Linked DNA regions of Homo sapiens. The protein of the gene in region 1 purifies or fractionates together with the protein of each later gene. This does not show direct contact. Each region holds a gene or a part of one and is shown on either strand. Other genes may lie near its edges.

Region 1 (2,539 bases):
ATGACTAGTAATAAAGAAAATATGATTTAAGAGGCATTAGGAAGGCATCTTTGTCCTAAACACTATATGACAGCTGATGCCTGAAACCCTCCTAATTGGAGTCTCTAATTAAACTCCGCTAATTACAGTGGGAGTCTCAAACAAGTGTGTAAAGGCTGGTGACTCCACCCCCAGAATTTCTGATTCAGTAGATGTGGAGTGAGACTTGAGAATTTTCATCTCTAACAGCCGTCCAGTTGATGTTCTGGGAACTACACATTGAGAACCACTACTATAGTTTAAGGCTTTATTAATTAAAATGGAAAGAAATTTCCCTGGTAGCTGGCAACTCCTTGGGACTTACAGGCAATCGTCAGGTAGAATACTCTCTCCTTTCCTGAAAAGAGCTTTTCATAAGGGAGTGAGAGATGAATTCAAAGTTTTTGGAGGCAGAGGCATCATCAAGAGAAGAAGTGATTATAGAAAGCAGATGTTGGACACATTAGAGACAAACTTGGCTTCTTCACAATTATGCATGAGACTAGGCTGGACTTGGTGTAAAAATAGGTCCAGCCACAGGGGTACGATACCTAGCCTGGCATTTATCTATGCATCTTCAAACTCAGAGTAGACCCTTTAAAAATAACTCTGGGGAGATTTCTCCAGGACAACCTAAGAAAATGCATTCCAAAAGTAATATTCAGTCAGGATAGTTTGTAAGAGAATAACAAAGATAATTTGTCAAAAGGTTGTGCTGCCTGGGTATTACTCACTAAAGCTTTTTAAGCAAATAATCACATAAACATATCATTTATAGGAACAGACTATTTTTCCACTGGGAACTGCTCAGTTATTTAAGAATTTTTGTTTTTTTGGTGGGGGGAGTTAAATAACAGTGTACTTGAGTCTACAATCCAGGAATTAAATGGCAGCCTGCCATCATAGCGGTTATTTTTCCATGGTGATGAAATGTATTGTTTAATCCTGTAGTCAAAAACAAAAGATGCAACAGAAAAAAAATGTTAAGAGATGAATCTGTTTAGCTGAATCAAATAGAACAACAACAATATTGACCTAAATACATAATTTTTCCTGACGAGTGTTCTGTGCTTCTACAGGTATATTACAGGTACATTCCTTAAAAGCCCCACGGACAATTGATGTGGGAAGTAAACTTCAAGTGACTCCACATAGAGCCCTTGCTTACAAATTATGCATTTCATCCTGAGCATTTGTGAATTAGGGTGTTTAGGAGTGAGGCAGCAGTATTTAAAACACAGTTGAGAAGTATAAGACTTTAGCTTATGGAGTATTATGTGTGTAGTATAGACCCACATTTTAGAGTTTTATCAAAGTGTTTTCTCATAGGTTTCTAATTTTCTATCGTTCTCAAATCTGAGTGTGCATCAGAATCACCTGGAGATCTTATAAACCCAGGTTGCTGTTTCCTACCCCCAGAATTTCTGACTTGCTGGGTCAGAGGTTGGGCCTCACAGTTTACTCCCCAGGTATTAATAGTATTGATGTTGCTGGCTCACGATTTGAGAACTACTATTTAATCCTTGCGAGAAACTTGTGTGATATTATTAGGAATTTCTGAAAGAGAGAAACTGAAGATCAGCTAGGGGAGGATATTTGCCCAAGGACAAAGGGTAAATGCAATAGCCAGAACCTGAGTCTGAAGTGTTTTTTTCACTCATACAGTATAATAACAATACTTTCCTTCATTGTCATGAATACAAATTTTTAAAAAATTCTATCAGTAGAAAAGCAACAAAGAGAAATCTAGTTATTTACTTTTTAATGTAGATATCAAATTTTGTCATTTCAATATTTAAGAAAATAAATATAAGAGTTTCCCTGGAGAGAATATTGATATAATAATATCACACTGTGTCAAAACTGTTTAAGTACTTGCTTCTTCTAGCCACATCATCTACTCTAGTTGTAACAAAGTGGTCTCTAAGAAACATATCTCCTCTATGAAAAGACATCAAAATTTATGAGACAGTGAACTTGTCTTAAGCAATATGATGGAAATATTTATTTTTCTGAAAACTTTCAGGGATTTAAGATTAGGTAAAAATGTTATTTACTCAACTACATTACTTTCTGGTGTTCCCTGAGAAACACTGTAATTTATGAAAATGTAATTAAATTTAGAATACTTCTTTTTTATATTCATTTATTCAGACATACATTGATTATGGGACATGAGCTTGATGAGGATAAGGGGATTGCACATCGAAAGGGACATATTCTTTTGGGCAAGAGACACATTGTAGAATTAGAAAGAATCGGCCAGGTCTCAGCTCTGCCACTTACTTTCTGAAATAAGTTGTGTGCATTTCCTTATTTCTCTGAACCAGAATTCCCACAAAATGCCCAGGTATGTAGAATAATAATATTGGCTGATAAAGCCTGTGAGATGATCAGGTGATACTTGGATGTATGTAAAAAAAGAGAACCTGATTTTATAACAACTAAACTGCTATTCAAATGAGTCATTATTTTTATTAAATTCAGTTTACAAAATGGCATAAATTCAAAGCAAAGCAAC
Region 2 (3,522 bases), on another chromosome or scaffold:
AATAAGGTAAACAATGAGTGCAGAGGAGAACTGTAGAGGTGGAGTTTTTCTAAGAATACAGACTTGAGCTGTCATCCAGTATGTCTTTTCAGATGGAGCAAAAACAGGTGGTACCTCCCTTTAAACCAAATATTTCTGGGGAATTTGGTTTGGACAACTTTGATTCTCAGTTTACTAATGAACCTGTCCAGCTCACTCCAGATGACGAGTAAGTAATTCTGTACACTGAAATTTTTTTTTAAGTTCTTTGGAAATCCCATTTTTAGTGACTATGCAATGTTTCATTATCAGATTATACTATAATTTTTTTATTTTCTATTTTATTTCATTTTATTTTATTTTGAGATGGAGTCTCGCTCTGTTGCCCAGGCTGGAGTGCAGTGGTGCAATCTCGGCTCACTGCAACCTCTGCCTCCCAGGTTCAAATGATTCTCCTGCCTCAGATACCCTGAGTAGCTGGTACTACAGGCGCGTGCCGCCACGCCCAGCTAATTTTTGTATTTTTAGTAAGGACAGAGTTTGCCATGTTGGCCAGGCTGATCTTGAACTCCAGACCTCAGGTGATCCACCCACCTTGGCCTCTTAAAGTGCTGGGATTACAGGCGTGAGCCACTGTGCCCGGCCTATACTATAATTTATACAACCATTCAGTTACTGGTATTTGTATCTACTGTACCATTATAAGTTTTAATAGTAACTGTCATTTTCTCCTTTGCTTTATAGTGCATTATCTTATTTTCACAACAACTTTGTAATCTAGTTACTGTCATCTTCGTTTTACAGATGAGGAAACCAAGGCTCAGAGAGGTTAAGCAAAGTTACACAGCTATCAGGTGGCAGAGTCAGGATTCAAACCCAAATCTGACTGACTAAGGCCTGTGCTCTTTCTACCACGCTGCACTGTTTCCCATTTGACAAGGACTGTCTTTGAGTTCCTGAGTATTGCCTTAAGATAGATTCCTAGAAAGAGAATTAGGTCAGAGGGTATTAACATTTTAAAGCTCTTGTATTGCCAAATTGCTTTTTTTAAGAAATTACATTGAGTTATTAAATCCAGCCATCAGTGATCTGGTATATTTTTTGTGCTTATACTTCATCTTTTAAACATGTAGTTTGGAATAATTGGGAGATATTTTGATTATTTACCTGTTGTTACAGATTCATTCTCTCTAATCTCAGGGAGGCCCTTATTGTTTGGCAGTCATTTCACTTCTATCTCATTTCTTACCACATTTCTCCCAGCACCTGCTCCAAACAGTCTCTTCATTTCAGAAGCCTTCAGTTCTACTCCTTTTTCCATCACTGTTAATGGATTAACCTTGTCTTAATTTGATGCAAGGACTGATAACCTCTCTGACGTGACCTTGCCTCCTTTGCAGCTGTCCCCAGACCACCTTGCATCTCAGAATTGCTTTCTAACTCTTTTCATCATTTTCTTATTCCCTACTCTTGGAAGACTCTCCTTTACAAGGGGTGTCCCTGCTATTTTCCTAGACCTGTTTCCTTAGTTTTCTCCAAGATTTCATTTTGTCAGTTATCTTTTTATTAGACCTTCTTTATTTTTTTCTAGCTTGTTTCCCTCTGTGTAAGCATGCTCAGATACTCTGATTTTTCCCCCTAACTCATGGCCCCTCTTTGAACAACCACGTTTTTCCTCATTTTCATTTCATCTTAAAGCCTCAAAAAAAAAAAAGTTAATAGATGTTCATGGTCAAAGAAAAATAAATACACAGCACCTCTAATCAAACTTCTTCAGACTAGTCAACATTGATTGTCTTGAATTTTTTTTTTTTTTTTTTTTACTGTCAACACTTCAACCCCTTACAATCGAACCTGTCCTCCAGCTTTTGAAGGTTGAATCAATTTCTTAATTTCTAAATTGTAAAGCATTTTGGGGTCAGTCCTCCTCTCCCTTGATTAATGTAAAGCATTTGGTACTCATGGCTTTGCCTTGGGTAGCACTGCCTATTCTGGTTCTGTTTCATCTCTGTGACTACTTTCCTCTCATGTGTTTTCCCTGTCCCCTTGAGACCAGGATGCTCCATGGTTCTGTTCATGACAGCCTTCTTTTTGCTATATGCAGTTTGTACCTTGGAGATTTCAGCCAGCCCTGTAGCATAGATACCAGCTAATTAAATGGCTCTCAGTTAAATGGCAAATGGTTATTGAGCAAAAGGTGTTATGGTAAATACTAGACATTCAAAGACAATCAAGACAGTCTGATCTCCCCAAAAGCGTGCTGTCTACTAGAGGAGAAAGATGTGTACCAAGTCATTATTTCTGACAGCATTGTGTATTAGAAGGAACACTGGATTTAATCAAAAGATAGGAGTTTGAATCCCGATGCCACCTCTTACCAACTGGGTAACCTTGGATAGGAATTGCATAACTTCTCTGAGCCTGTTCTCAAATTGCCTACCTCATAAGGTTGCTGTGAAGAATAAATGCATGATGGTTTCTGAAGCACTTATCCCCTGCCGTTAGATCTCCTGAGCTGCATTTCTGTTTAACACGGCCCCCAGTTTGTCAGCCAAGCAGCTCAAATATATGAAGTCTAAAATGAAAGTAATGACCCTTTATGATCTCTTTCTATTGTTCTCAATCAGTTCCTTTTTTTTTAGTTACCTAATTCTGCTCACGGTGTGTCCCTGTTGTTCAGATTCCAGATGTCAGTGATTGTGGACTCCTCCTTTTTCTTAACAGATTACATAATACCTGCAGCTGCCAAGTCTTTGTCTGTGTTTTCATTATTTCATCATTTACATCAGATCTTTCTTTTCTCTTCCCGTTGACACACCCTAGTTCAGGCCTCATTCAAGTCATACCCAGAGTATTGTATCAGCCTCCTAATTGATCTTTACTCCTTCACTTTGCAACCTATTCTGTATGCCTTGTGAAGTACCACTCCAATTCTTGAACCCCTTTAATTAGAAACCTTCAGTAACTCCTTCATTGCCTATCAGGTAACATCTATCCTCTTGGCTAGCATTTAAGGCCTCCCCACATCTGCTCCAGCCTGACTTTCTAGCGATACCTCTCACCATAATACAAACAGTGTTCTGATCAGTCTTAGCTACTCACCATTCCCTAGTAGTATTATTGTCTCTGCTTCTGCCTGTTCATTCCTGTGTATCCCGCCTTCATTTTTACCTATTGAAATTTTCCCATCTTTCAGAGCCACCTCAGATGCAACCAGATCTTTGATGGATCAAGGTGAAACTCCTTAGTGTAAACATCACTGGCCTCTTTGATTTAGCCATTATTTTTCTTCAGCATCATCTAACACACTTCTATTCCTGTGCTCCACCCTAATTACTTGCATTTCCCAAGACCTACCACAGTCTTTCATCATTCCATTCATTAAGTGTTTGCAGAATGAATACTGCCTTCCTTGATTTCTCCAACTAGAAGTCACACCTTTCTTTAGAACCATGGTTAGAACAGGACTTAGCTTATTGTGTATAAAATTTAACAAGTACTGCTTTCTCTTCCAGTAGGAATTACCTCCCTTCCTTGAAGGAA
Region 3 (3,522 bases), on another chromosome or scaffold:
GGCGGCTTCCTGGAGGAGGCTGGTCTCAAGCTGGGCGGTGGAAGGGGGTGTCTCATAACAAGAGAGAACTGTGAACCAAGCTGGCTGTATTTCCAGCACTGTCAGTAGATGAGGCTCTTTTGAGCAGAAGGTGAAAGAAAATTTGGAAGAGTTGGTTGGAGTTGTGTAGCCAAGCAGTCTCATCAGGCTGAATGAAATGTTAGGACTTTTTTTGAAGATGAGGGGAGCCATTGAATGCTTTTGAGCTGAGAAGGAGATAGAAAATTTGATCCTGCAATAGAAGATCTACAATATGGATTGGAGTGGGTATATTTTGGCATCATAGAGCCTTAGAATAAAGAGAAAAATCTTTTCACTGTGTCTTCCCTCCTGTTTGCCCCTTTTTCTGCAGGGGATGTGGTCCTGTCTGGCTGTAGCACCCTGAGCCTGCTGACTCCCACACTGCAACAGCTGAACCACGTATTTGAGCTGCACCTGGGGCCATGGGGCCCTGGCCAGACAGGCTTTGTGGCTCTGCCCTCCCATCCTGCCGACTCCCCTGTTATTCTTCAGCTTCAGTTTCTCTTCGATGTGCTGCAGAAAACACTTTCACTCAAGGTTCTGGGTGTGGGGAAGAGGCAGGATGTGCAAGGAGCCCAAGAGAATGATGGAAGTTGGGGATAGGGTAGGGGTGCAGAAGTCTGCAGTGCCAGGATCCAGAGGGTGTCAGAGGTACCAGTGGTTGTGCTAAGGAAGGAATGTTGAGGGCAGGAAGATCTGCTGTGCCTCAGTAAATTGAGTTTTTTTTTTTTTTTCAGCTGGTCCATGTTGCTGGTCCTGGCCCCACAGGGCCCATCAAGATTTTCCCCTTCAAATCCCTTCGGCACCTGGAGGTATGGGGACACGGGGGGATGTTGGTGCACAGCACCCAACTTGAGGCAGCCCCTTGGGGATGGGAAAGAGAAGAGCCTCTTTGGTGAGGAGGCCAGGCCTGAGTATACCCATTGCTCTGCAGTCATGTGATATCCACTGTCTTTCCATTTACTGCTTCCCTAAATCATAGCTGGGCTTTGTGGTCTTCTCCCTCCTCCCAACTAGGGGATGGGGATGAGGTCTTTGTCTTCTGTGGGGTTCTGCCTTCCTCCCTCCTCTTTCCTTGTCCCAGCTCCGAGGTGTTCCCCTCCACTGTCTGCATGGCCTCCGAGGCATCTACTCCCAGCTGGAGACCCTGATTTGCAGCAGGAGCCTCCAGGCATTAGAGGTAAGGAGAGTGAGGGGTGAGCTCAGACACCTCAACTTGAGAGATGTAGAAGACCAAGCTCTGATGTTCTCCCCTCTCTGCAGCTCTCCCTGCCTCCTGCTTCCCTCTAGACAGTGTCCTCACTCCCTCTCTGTGTTCCCGCAGCACTCTGTAACTGCCTGTATATTTATAGTCGTACCTACCATATTATATTACATATTCTAGTGTCTACCTTCCCACTGTCCCTACAGTGAGTTCTTGGGTCAGGGACCTGGGCTTTAAGCCTGTATCTTCAGATGGAGTTCAGTGTATAAAAAATGAATGAGTGACTGGGTGGTAGAGCTTGGCCTTGGCATAGGGAGGAAGGGGAGGGTGGGGTAATGAAGCACCCATCTGTCTGCTCAGGAGCTCCTCTCAGCCTGCGGCGGCGACTTCTGCTCTGCCCTCCCTTGGCTGGCTCTGCTTTCTGCCAACTTCAGCTACAATGCACTGACCGCCTTAGACAGCTCCCTGGTGAGTGCCTCAGAGGGAAGAGGGTTTCGAGGAAGGGCAAGGCCAGGCCTTTGGGGAGGAGGGCCAGCTGGTTGACCAGATAGTATTGTAGTGAACATCGATTCTCTGCCTCCTCCCCGTCTCTCTCAGCGCCTCTTGTCAGCTCTGCGTTTCTTGAACCTAAGCCACAATCAAGTCCAGGACTGTCAGGGATTCCTGATGGTGAGTATGGGCAGTTTGGCAGCTGGCACACCATGGGTCTTTGATTGCTCTGCTCTCACTCTCTCTCCTTGACCAGCTTTTACTCCCACCTTGCTCTTGCCATGAGGGTGGAGCTGCATTCTGGGAGATAGCACTGCTTAGACACTAGCATCAGACAAACCAGAGTTCATATCTCAACTTCTAATACCTGTGCAACTTTGAGCAAGTTAGTTACCTCTTGGTTTCTTTACCTGTAAAGTAGAAATCACAAGAGTACCTGGTTTTTTTTTTTTTTTTTTTTTTTGAGATGGAGTCTCGCTCTGTCACCCAGGCTGGAGTGCAGTGGCGCAATCTCAGCTCACTGCAACCTCTGCCTCCCAGGTTCAAGCAATTCTCCTGCTTCAGCCTCCCAAGTAGCTGGGATTACAGGCACGTGTCAACACACCTGGCTAATTTTTGTATTTTTAGTAGAGATGGGGTTTCACCATGTTGGTCAGGCTGGTCTTGAACTGCTGACCTCAAGCAATTCACCTGCCTTGGCCTCCCAAAATGCTGGGATTACAGGCATGAGCCACCACGCCCGGCTGAATACCTGCTTTTATAGTATTAAAATGATTGTGAAGAAGTACCCAATGTTGCTTAGTCTAGTGCCTAGCTCAGAAACTGGTAGCTTTTGTGATTATGATGAAGAACCTTTCTTCTGGGTCCTCCCATCCACCTGTCAGAGATAAAGCCGAACTAGTTAAAGTGGTAAGGACAGATTTTTTTTTTCTTTTTTTTTTTGAGGCAGAGTCTTGCTCTGTCACCCAGGCTAGAGTGCAGTGGTGTGATCTTGGCTCACTGCAAACTCAACCTCCTGGGTTCAAGCAGTTCTCCTGCCTCAGTCTCCCGAGTAGCTGGGATTACAGGTGCCCGCCACCATGCCCAGCTAATTTTTGTATTTTTTAGTAGAGATGGGGTTTCACCATCTTAGCCAGGCTGGTCTTGAACTCCTGACCTCATGATCCGCCCACCTCAGCCTCCCAAAATGCTGGGATTACAGGTGTGAGCCACCGTGCCCGACCAAGTAAGGACAGATTTTTTATCAGTGATAAACTATTGCAGCGGGGAAGAGGGTGCAACCTGAACTGAACGCCACTTCAATTTGTGCAGAGGTGGCTGGGCATTTTAAAAGGAGAGTGAGGGAATAGGAAGGGGAACTGTGAGGGCTTGAGCAGAGTAAGGGAAGTGGAAATGTACGAAAAGCAGAAGTGGAGGTTGATTCACATGAAGCCCTTCTGGGTTTGCTAAAAGTTAGGCTCCTACCTTCCCACAGAGACTGGGAGATGGGAGCCCTGTCATCAGGTGTTGGCTAGAACAAATGGGAAATTCTTTTGGCAGCCTTGACTTTTCCCAGGCAGGAGCTTAAGGGGGCTAGAGTCACCATTCTAGGGATGCATCCTTGAGATATTAGAACTTTGCTGTTTTTGTTCAGGTTTTTTACTGTGGGGGTTGGAGGAGTCAACAAAAATAATTTGTGTTGAATTTTGTTGAACTTGTGCTGAACAAGTCTGCAGTTCTTAACAGGCCAAAGTTGAGGCCTAGTCAAAAAGAAGGCCCAGAGGAGCCTG
Region 4 (3,522 bases), on another chromosome or scaffold:
TTATTCCACAAGTCTAAAAACAAATGTCTGCCTAATTATTTAGGTCATTCATAGATTTATCAAACAGTACCATCATCTGAGTAATCTTAGCTGTTTTTACCAGTTTCCTATACTGCCTTTAATATTACTACCATTAGTATCATTGTGGAGACTGTTCAGCATTGACCAGGACAGCTTGCTTGCTTGCTTTCTATCAGTTGTCAGTAAATAATTGAACGTCCGTGAAGTAAAGAGTAAAAGAACTAACTTGTTAATTGATAAAATTACAAAGCACTTTTATTACTCCAAATTACAGATCTTAAACTACAAGATCTATAAAATAAATACCACTTTGGAAATACGTACAAAGAGTTTGCATCATTCTTTGGGTAAATACATTCTTCCCCCCTTCCTCTCATTTTCAATTGTAGGTACTCGACCACCACTGATAAAAAATTTACCTAAGCCCATTGAGAGCCTGATGACTCGTTGTTGGTCTAAAGATCCTTCCCAGCGCCCTTCAATGGAGGAAATTGTGAAAATAATGACTCACTTGATGCGGGTATAATCCTTCTTTTGAGGGGCTTTGGATTTAGGGGAATTTAATATGTGCTGAGTTTTAATGGAATTTTAAAAGGGATGTTATTACTATATTCTGCTTTATATATTGCTATGTTTTCTAAGTGAGAATGGGCATTTATTACTCATAGTCAGAAGAGGAAACATTTCGAGAGGGAAAATCTAGTTCTTTATCACTGGAAAGATGGCTAGACTAGGTTTCTAGACTTGCTTTTTTCTTTTTGCTTACATTAGTGGACAAGTATGTTTGTCTCTGGGCCTGTTGCCTCATTTGTAATGTGGGAGAAACTGAAATAGATAGTCTCTAAAGCCATCACAGGACTTGGATATATTAATATTATGACTTCAATACATGATAAACTAAATTTTACATTTTTCTGATACCAATTTTCATCAAGCATTTAGTCATTTATGCAAGGCAATAGGTTGCATTCTCAGACACATTTATTTGAGTGACTTTTACTATTTGGCCTATTTTCAGGTTTTTATATCCCAGTAAAAAGTTAAACTTTCTTCTATTTAGAAGAACCCTTTTAAATGATTATCAAATTTTCCTAGTCTGTGAATCAAGCGCCTTTAGAATTATTTGGAATATTTTACGCCTCTGGTTTTTGGTACATTAACAAAAACTGTGAAGTGGTATCTTGGCTTTAAAAAGTTCAAATATCTATGAAAGTGCCTGAATTTTGAAACAGTTTGTTCAGTAGAAGAATCTTACAATCTCCTTAAATATAGACTAAGTAATTTCCTAAATGGTAAAACGTTGTTTATTCAATCTATTGAAAATTTCTTACGCAAAGCAGCTTGAACTAATCTACTAAAAGTTTACCATCGTATTTGGATACCAGTCATATATAGAAGCCTAGGCCTTAAAGGTGTGTGCATAAGAAAACAACTTAGTCTCTGTAGTCAGATTACTTAAAACTTTAGGATATATAAGTTATTGCAGTTGTAATTTTGCTTCTCTGTTCCTTGTCTAATTTGAGGAGAATACGTTTCCTTTTTTTCTCTAAATTCTAACATTTTTGTCCAGCAGATACTTTGAGTATTATGCCTCCAGTTTGTAGAAAGACATTCATAATCTATCCTCTTAATATTTAAAATGTTCTAACAATTATTCTATGGTATACTAGTCTCAGTCTTCAGACTAACAGTCACTGGAAGTTTACATCACTACTGTAAGAACATGAGTATGTTTTACATAATTATGAGAAATGATACTATTTTATTTCATATGTTTCTCTAGAGAAATATTTGCTGTTTTCTTCAAGACTATCTAGACTCCAATGTAAGCTAGATTCTTAGGTAGGTGCATGGCATTGATCAAAGTTGAAATCCAAGAGTACATTATTGTAATCTTTGTAAAATAAAAAACTTAGGCACCTACAAATTTAGTATATAACTTAGGGAAAATAAAACATTAATCAGGATTTAATTTGTATTAAGGAAATTTTAAGCTGTGGTTTACTTTTTTATATATAGTACTTTCCAGGAGCAGATGAGCCATTACAGTATCCTTGTCAGTATTCAGATGAAGGACAGAGCAACTCTGCCACCAGTACAGGTAAATGGATAGATTGGAAGAGTATTGACTTGATTTTTCTTTCATCTCTATTCCCATGAAATTATAATCAAGAAGTAATGAATAATGTCCCCATTTGCATTTTAATTCCTTCATTTCATATGATTGACTGCAATTTGAGTTTACAGGTGCGTCATTCTTCATGTAGGTACCCTGATTAAAGAGTTATTGAAGACCTGCTTCCAAGTCTTAGAATTCCTACATAATTATGAATAAAAAGATGGCATATTGTATTACAGTGAATGTCATTCTTAACTTGAAAAATCACTTTTACATGCATACTACTAGATCAAGTAGTATTAGAAATTATTGTAAATGTATTTAAACATTTCTTCATCACGAACACCCTAGTTTTTGTTCTCTTCTACAGAGGCTCTGATTTAAGAAGCTATGTTAAAAGTTCCTTAGTTTTCCGAAATGTGAAGTAGTAGTGGGACATGTAATTTGTGGTCATCAAAAAGATAGTAGAAATAATACTGTAACTTAGAAATATTGTACTTCTCAAAATATAGTGGCATTATAAGCATTTCATTATTAATTGAAACTTAAAGATATGTGTGTGTCTATATGCACATGTATTTACCCTGCATTTATTGAAAAATACTTTTACTGATCTATTTCTCCCACCTCAAGAATAGTTTTATTTATTTTAAGATGGTTACTGCTTGGCTAGTTATTCTCAAATTCCAGTTTTACTGAAAATATTTTGAGTTGCTCTGAATTCTAAAATGTACTTCTCTAAAATTCTATCATTTGTGTCTCCCACGTCCTCTAAACTCTCTCTTCATTTCCTTACTGTGACCTTGAATTTTTTGAGCCTCCCACCTTTTCACTGGTCCTCAGTCCTCTTAGGTCCTTTTTTCTTTCTCCCTCCACTTAATTCCAATCAACTATTATAATTCTTTTGGGAATAATTTTCATCTTTCTAGCCTCTCTCTCAAGCTTGCTTGGCTAAACCACAAGCCTAATGAAAGCTGACACTCGGCTTACTCCTTGCCTGTACCAATGCAGCTGAGTGTGGCTGGAGATAGCACAGGTTTACTATCCTCACGTGCATGTTTAGTGCTATTGGACAGTTGTACTGTATTGTAGTTCATCTCTTTCCTCCTATATGTCTTAATTTTATACTGTAGCCTCTCCTCAGACTTCAAACACCTCCTCGCCACTCCTCACTCTCAGCTGATCTTGTTTGCTCTTTCTCTGAGAAAATTGGAGTAATCGGAAGACAGCTTCCACAACATCTGTGCCCATCTACTCTGCTTTCTTCTGTTACTCTGGCTAAACTATCCATACTTCTGGCCAAAGGTGTACCTTTCTGCCTGTGCATTATATCCCATCTGCTCCTCTGAGCAATTCTCCCCTGTCTCTTGCATCATCAGTTT
Region 5 (3,343 bases), on another chromosome or scaffold:
GTTGTTGGACATTTGGGTTGGTTCCAAGTCTTTGCTATTGTGAATAGTCCCGCAATAAACATACGTGTGCATGTGTCTTTATAGCAGCATGATTTATAGTCCTTTGGTTATATACCCAGTAATGGGATGGCTGGGTCAAATGGTATTTCTAGTTCTAGATCCTTGAGGAATCGCCACACTGACTTCCACAATGGTTGAACTAGTTTACAGTCCCACCAACAGTGTAAAAGTGTTCCTATTTCTCCACATCCTCTCCAGCACCTGTTTCCTGACTTTTTAATGATTGCCATTCTAACTAGTGTGAGGTGGTATCTCATTGTGGTTTTGATTTGCATTTCTCTGATGGCCAGTGATGGTGAGTATTTTTTCATGTGTTTTTTGGCTGCATAAATGTCTTCTTTTGAGAAGTGTCTGTTCATGTCCTTTGCCCACTTTTTGATGGGGTTGTTTGTTTGTTTCTTGTAAATTTGTTTGAGTTCATTGTGGATTCTGGATATTAGCTCTTTGTCAGATGAGTAGGTTGCGAAAATTTTCTCCCATTTTGTAGGTTGCCTGTTCACTCTGATGGTAGTTTCTTTTGATGTGCAGAAGCTCTTTAGTTTAATTAGATCCTATTTGTCAATTTTGGCTTTTGTTGCCATTACTTTTGGGGTTTTAGACATGAAGTCCTTGCCCATGCCTATGTCCTGAATGGTAATGCCTAGGTTTTCTTCTAGGGTTTTTATGGTTTTAGGTCTAACGTTTAAGTCTTTAATCCATCTTGAATTAATTTTTGTATAAGGTGTAAGGAAGGGGTCCAGTTTCAGCTTTCTACATATGGCTAGCCAGTTTTCCCAGCACCATTTATTAAATAGGGAATCCTTTCCCCATTGCTTGTTTTTCTCAGGTTTGTCAAAGATCAGATGTAGATATGCAGCATTATTTCTGAGGGCTCTGTTCTGTTCCATTGATCTATATCTCTGTTTTGGTACCAGTACCATGCTGTTTTGGTTACTGTAGCCTTGTAGTATGGTTTGAAGTCAGGTAGCGTGATGCCTCCAGCTTTGTTCTTTTGGCTTAGGATTGACTTGGCAATGCAGGCTCTTTTTTGGTTCCATATGAACTTTAAAGTAGTTTTTTCCAATTCTGTGAAGAAAGTCATTGGTAGCTTGATGGGGATGGCATTGAATCTATAAATTACCTTGGGCAGTATGGCCATTTTCACGATACTGATTCTTCCTACCCATGAGCGTGGAATGTTCTTCCATTTGTTTGTATCCTCTTTTATTTCATTGAGCAGTGGTTTGTAGTTCTCCTTGAAGAGGTCCTAAACGTCCCTTGTAAGTTGGATTCCTAAGTATTTTATTCTCTTTGAAGCAATTGTGAATGGAAGTTCACTCATGATTTGGCTCTCTGTTTGTCTGTTATTGGTGTATAAGAATGCTGGTGATTTTTGTACATTGATTTTGTATCCTGAGACTTTGCTGAAGTTGCTTATCAGCTTAAGGAGATTTTGGGCTGAGACAATGGGGTTTTCTAGATATACAATCATGTCATCTGCAAACAGGGACAATTTGACTTCCTCTTTTCCTAATTGAATACCCTTTATTTCCTTCTCCTGCCTAATTGCCCTGGCCAGAACTTCCAACACTATGTTGAATAGGAGTGGTGAGAGAGGGCATCCCTGTCTTGTAGCACATAATTTTCAACAACTTCTCCAAAATTTGAAGGTAGTGTTTCCCCAAAATTTTTAAAGACACCAGCCATCTTAATGTTTCAGTGTTCTATTGTTTGTAATCAACCTTTCTTCAGAACTACTTAAAAGGATTGACACTGATAGTATAAGTTTGTAGTGTCCAGTGATGAAGTTTGTTTTAGAGATATTGTTTCCATTGCAATACTTGAAACTTTTTTTTTCTTTGTTTTTTGAGACAGTCTCTCACTCTGTCACCCAGGCTGGATCTCGGCTCACTGCAACGTCTACCTCCAGGGTTCAAGCGATTCTCCTGCCTCAGCCTCCCAAGTAGCTGGGACTACAGACATGCACCACCACACCCGGCTAATTTTTTTTGTATTTTTAGTAGTGACGGGGTTTTACTGTGTTGGCCAGACTGGTCTCGAACTCCTGACCTCAGTTGATCTGCCCACCTTGGACTCCCAAAGTGCTGGGATTACAGGCATGAGCCACTGCACCCAACTGAGACTTTTTATTAGCCAGCTATATCAGCCTTCTTTCCTTCTGAGCATTAACAAAATATTTAGAATCCTGAACTTTTCTGTATCCTTCCCTGGTGGTAGGAACTGGGGTCCTACTGATGACTTATGAAAATGAGGAGACTGACAGTGATCTCAAAAGTACATATAGATAAAGATTAGACCTCCTTACAATAAACTCTTTTTGGTTCACTGAAATTTTGTTCCTTTGAAATATTGCTCAGAAAGAATACACTTATTAGATGGGGCTTGGGACCTTGGATCACACAGAGCTTTCTTTTTATTGGGATGACATTTGACCTGTCTTTAGGTTTAGGGAGAAAAGCAGAGTGGTGAAAGTAGTTAATGACTGAGAATCTTAGTTGTTCCACAAGGGTACAAAGCAGAGTTTTAACATTAATTTGGCAGTTTAAAAATCCCCAACCAGGCGGCCGCGGTGGTTCACGCCTGTAATCCCAGCACTTTGGGAGGCCGAGGCGGGCGGATCACGAGGTCAGGAGTTCGAGACTAGCCTGGCCAACATTGTGAAACCCCGTCTCTACTAAAAATACAAAAACAATTAGCCAGGTATCGTGGCGGGCACCTGTAATCCCAGCTACTCTGGAGGCTGAGGCAGGAGAATTGCTTGAAACTGGAAGGCAGAGGTTGCCCTGAGCCGTGATCGTACCACGGCACTCCAGCCTGGGCAAAAAGAGCGAAACTCCATCTCCAAAAAACAAAAACAAAAACAAAAAAAATCCCCAACCAGCTGAGAGACTTGAATGTCTCAAGGAATTAGGATCTCACAGTTCTCCGTTACTGGCAACAGCCAGACTTAAGTCATTTTGGATTAGCTGTTATACAGTGTTAAAAACTGTGCAACTCTAGAATTGAAGTATAATTATTTTATTAAATTATTTGCTAATAACCAGCCAGTTTTTTGTATCGTAAGGACAGTTACAACCAAATATCTCTGAGTAGCAAAATATAATTTTAGGGCCTAGTGTTATACGTCAGGCCTAACCTCTACTGTGCAAAGATCATAAATTGAAGCTAGATAACAATATGAAGCCAAAAAGCTATTCAAGCTAACCACCAAAAAAGAATAGTGCTGCTTCAAGTTATAAACCTCAGTGACCATTTAAGTGAGGTCCCATAATGCCATAATATA

Evidence for each region.
Region 2: the proteins of KERA (region 1) and PRKCI purify together in Homo sapiens (affinity purification with mass spectrometry; 2 studies listed by BioGRID and IntAct, with this or other methods). This does not show direct contact.
Region 3: the proteins of KERA (region 1) and STK11IP purify together in Homo sapiens (affinity purification with mass spectrometry; 2 studies listed by BioGRID and IntAct, with this or other methods). This does not show direct contact.
Region 4: the proteins of KERA (region 1) and MAP3K7 purify together in Homo sapiens (affinity purification with mass spectrometry; 2 studies listed by BioGRID and IntAct, with this or other methods). This does not show direct contact.
Region 5: the proteins of KERA (region 1) and UBR1 purify together in Homo sapiens (co-immunoprecipitation; one large-scale study listed by IntAct). This does not show direct contact.

What each region holds. Positions count from the first base shown.
Region 1 is NC_000012.12:91,052,502-91,055,040, reverse strand, and holds part of KERA (keratocan precursor), read left to right. Parts: intron 1-2,539. UniProt on the Homo sapiens protein: May be important in developing and maintaining corneal transparency and for the structure of the stromal matrix.
Region 2 is NC_000003.12:170,298,903-170,302,424, forward strand, and holds part of PRKCI (protein kinase C iota type), read left to right. Parts: intron 1-92; coding exon 93-208; intron 209-3,522.
Region 3 is NC_000002.12:219,600,844-219,604,365, forward strand, and holds part of STK11IP (serine/threonine-protein kinase 11-interacting protein), read left to right. Parts: intron 1-391; coding exon 392-597; intron 598-797; coding exon 798-872; intron 873-1,144; coding exon 1,145-1,240; intron 1,241-1,624; coding exon 1,625-1,732; intron 1,733-1,861; coding exon 1,862-1,933; intron 1,934-3,522. UniProt on the Homo sapiens protein: May regulate STK11/LKB1 function by controlling its subcellular localization.
Region 4 is NC_000006.12:90,549,068-90,552,589, reverse strand, and holds part of MAP3K7 (mitogen-activated protein kinase kinase kinase 7), read left to right. Parts: intron 1-410; coding exon 411-541; intron 542-2,040; coding exon 2,041-2,122; intron 2,123-3,522. UniProt on the Homo sapiens protein: Serine/threonine kinase which acts as an essential component of the MAP kinase signal transduction pathway. Plays an important role in the cascades of cellular responses evoked by changes in the environment.
Region 5 is NC_000015.10:42,945,701-42,949,043, reverse strand, and holds part of UBR1 (E3 ubiquitin-protein ligase UBR1), read left to right. Parts: intron 1-3,343. UniProt on the Homo sapiens protein: E3 ubiquitin-protein ligase which is a component of the N-end rule pathway. Recognizes and binds proteins bearing specific N-terminal residues that are destabilizing according to the N-end rule, leading to their ubiquitination and subsequent degradation.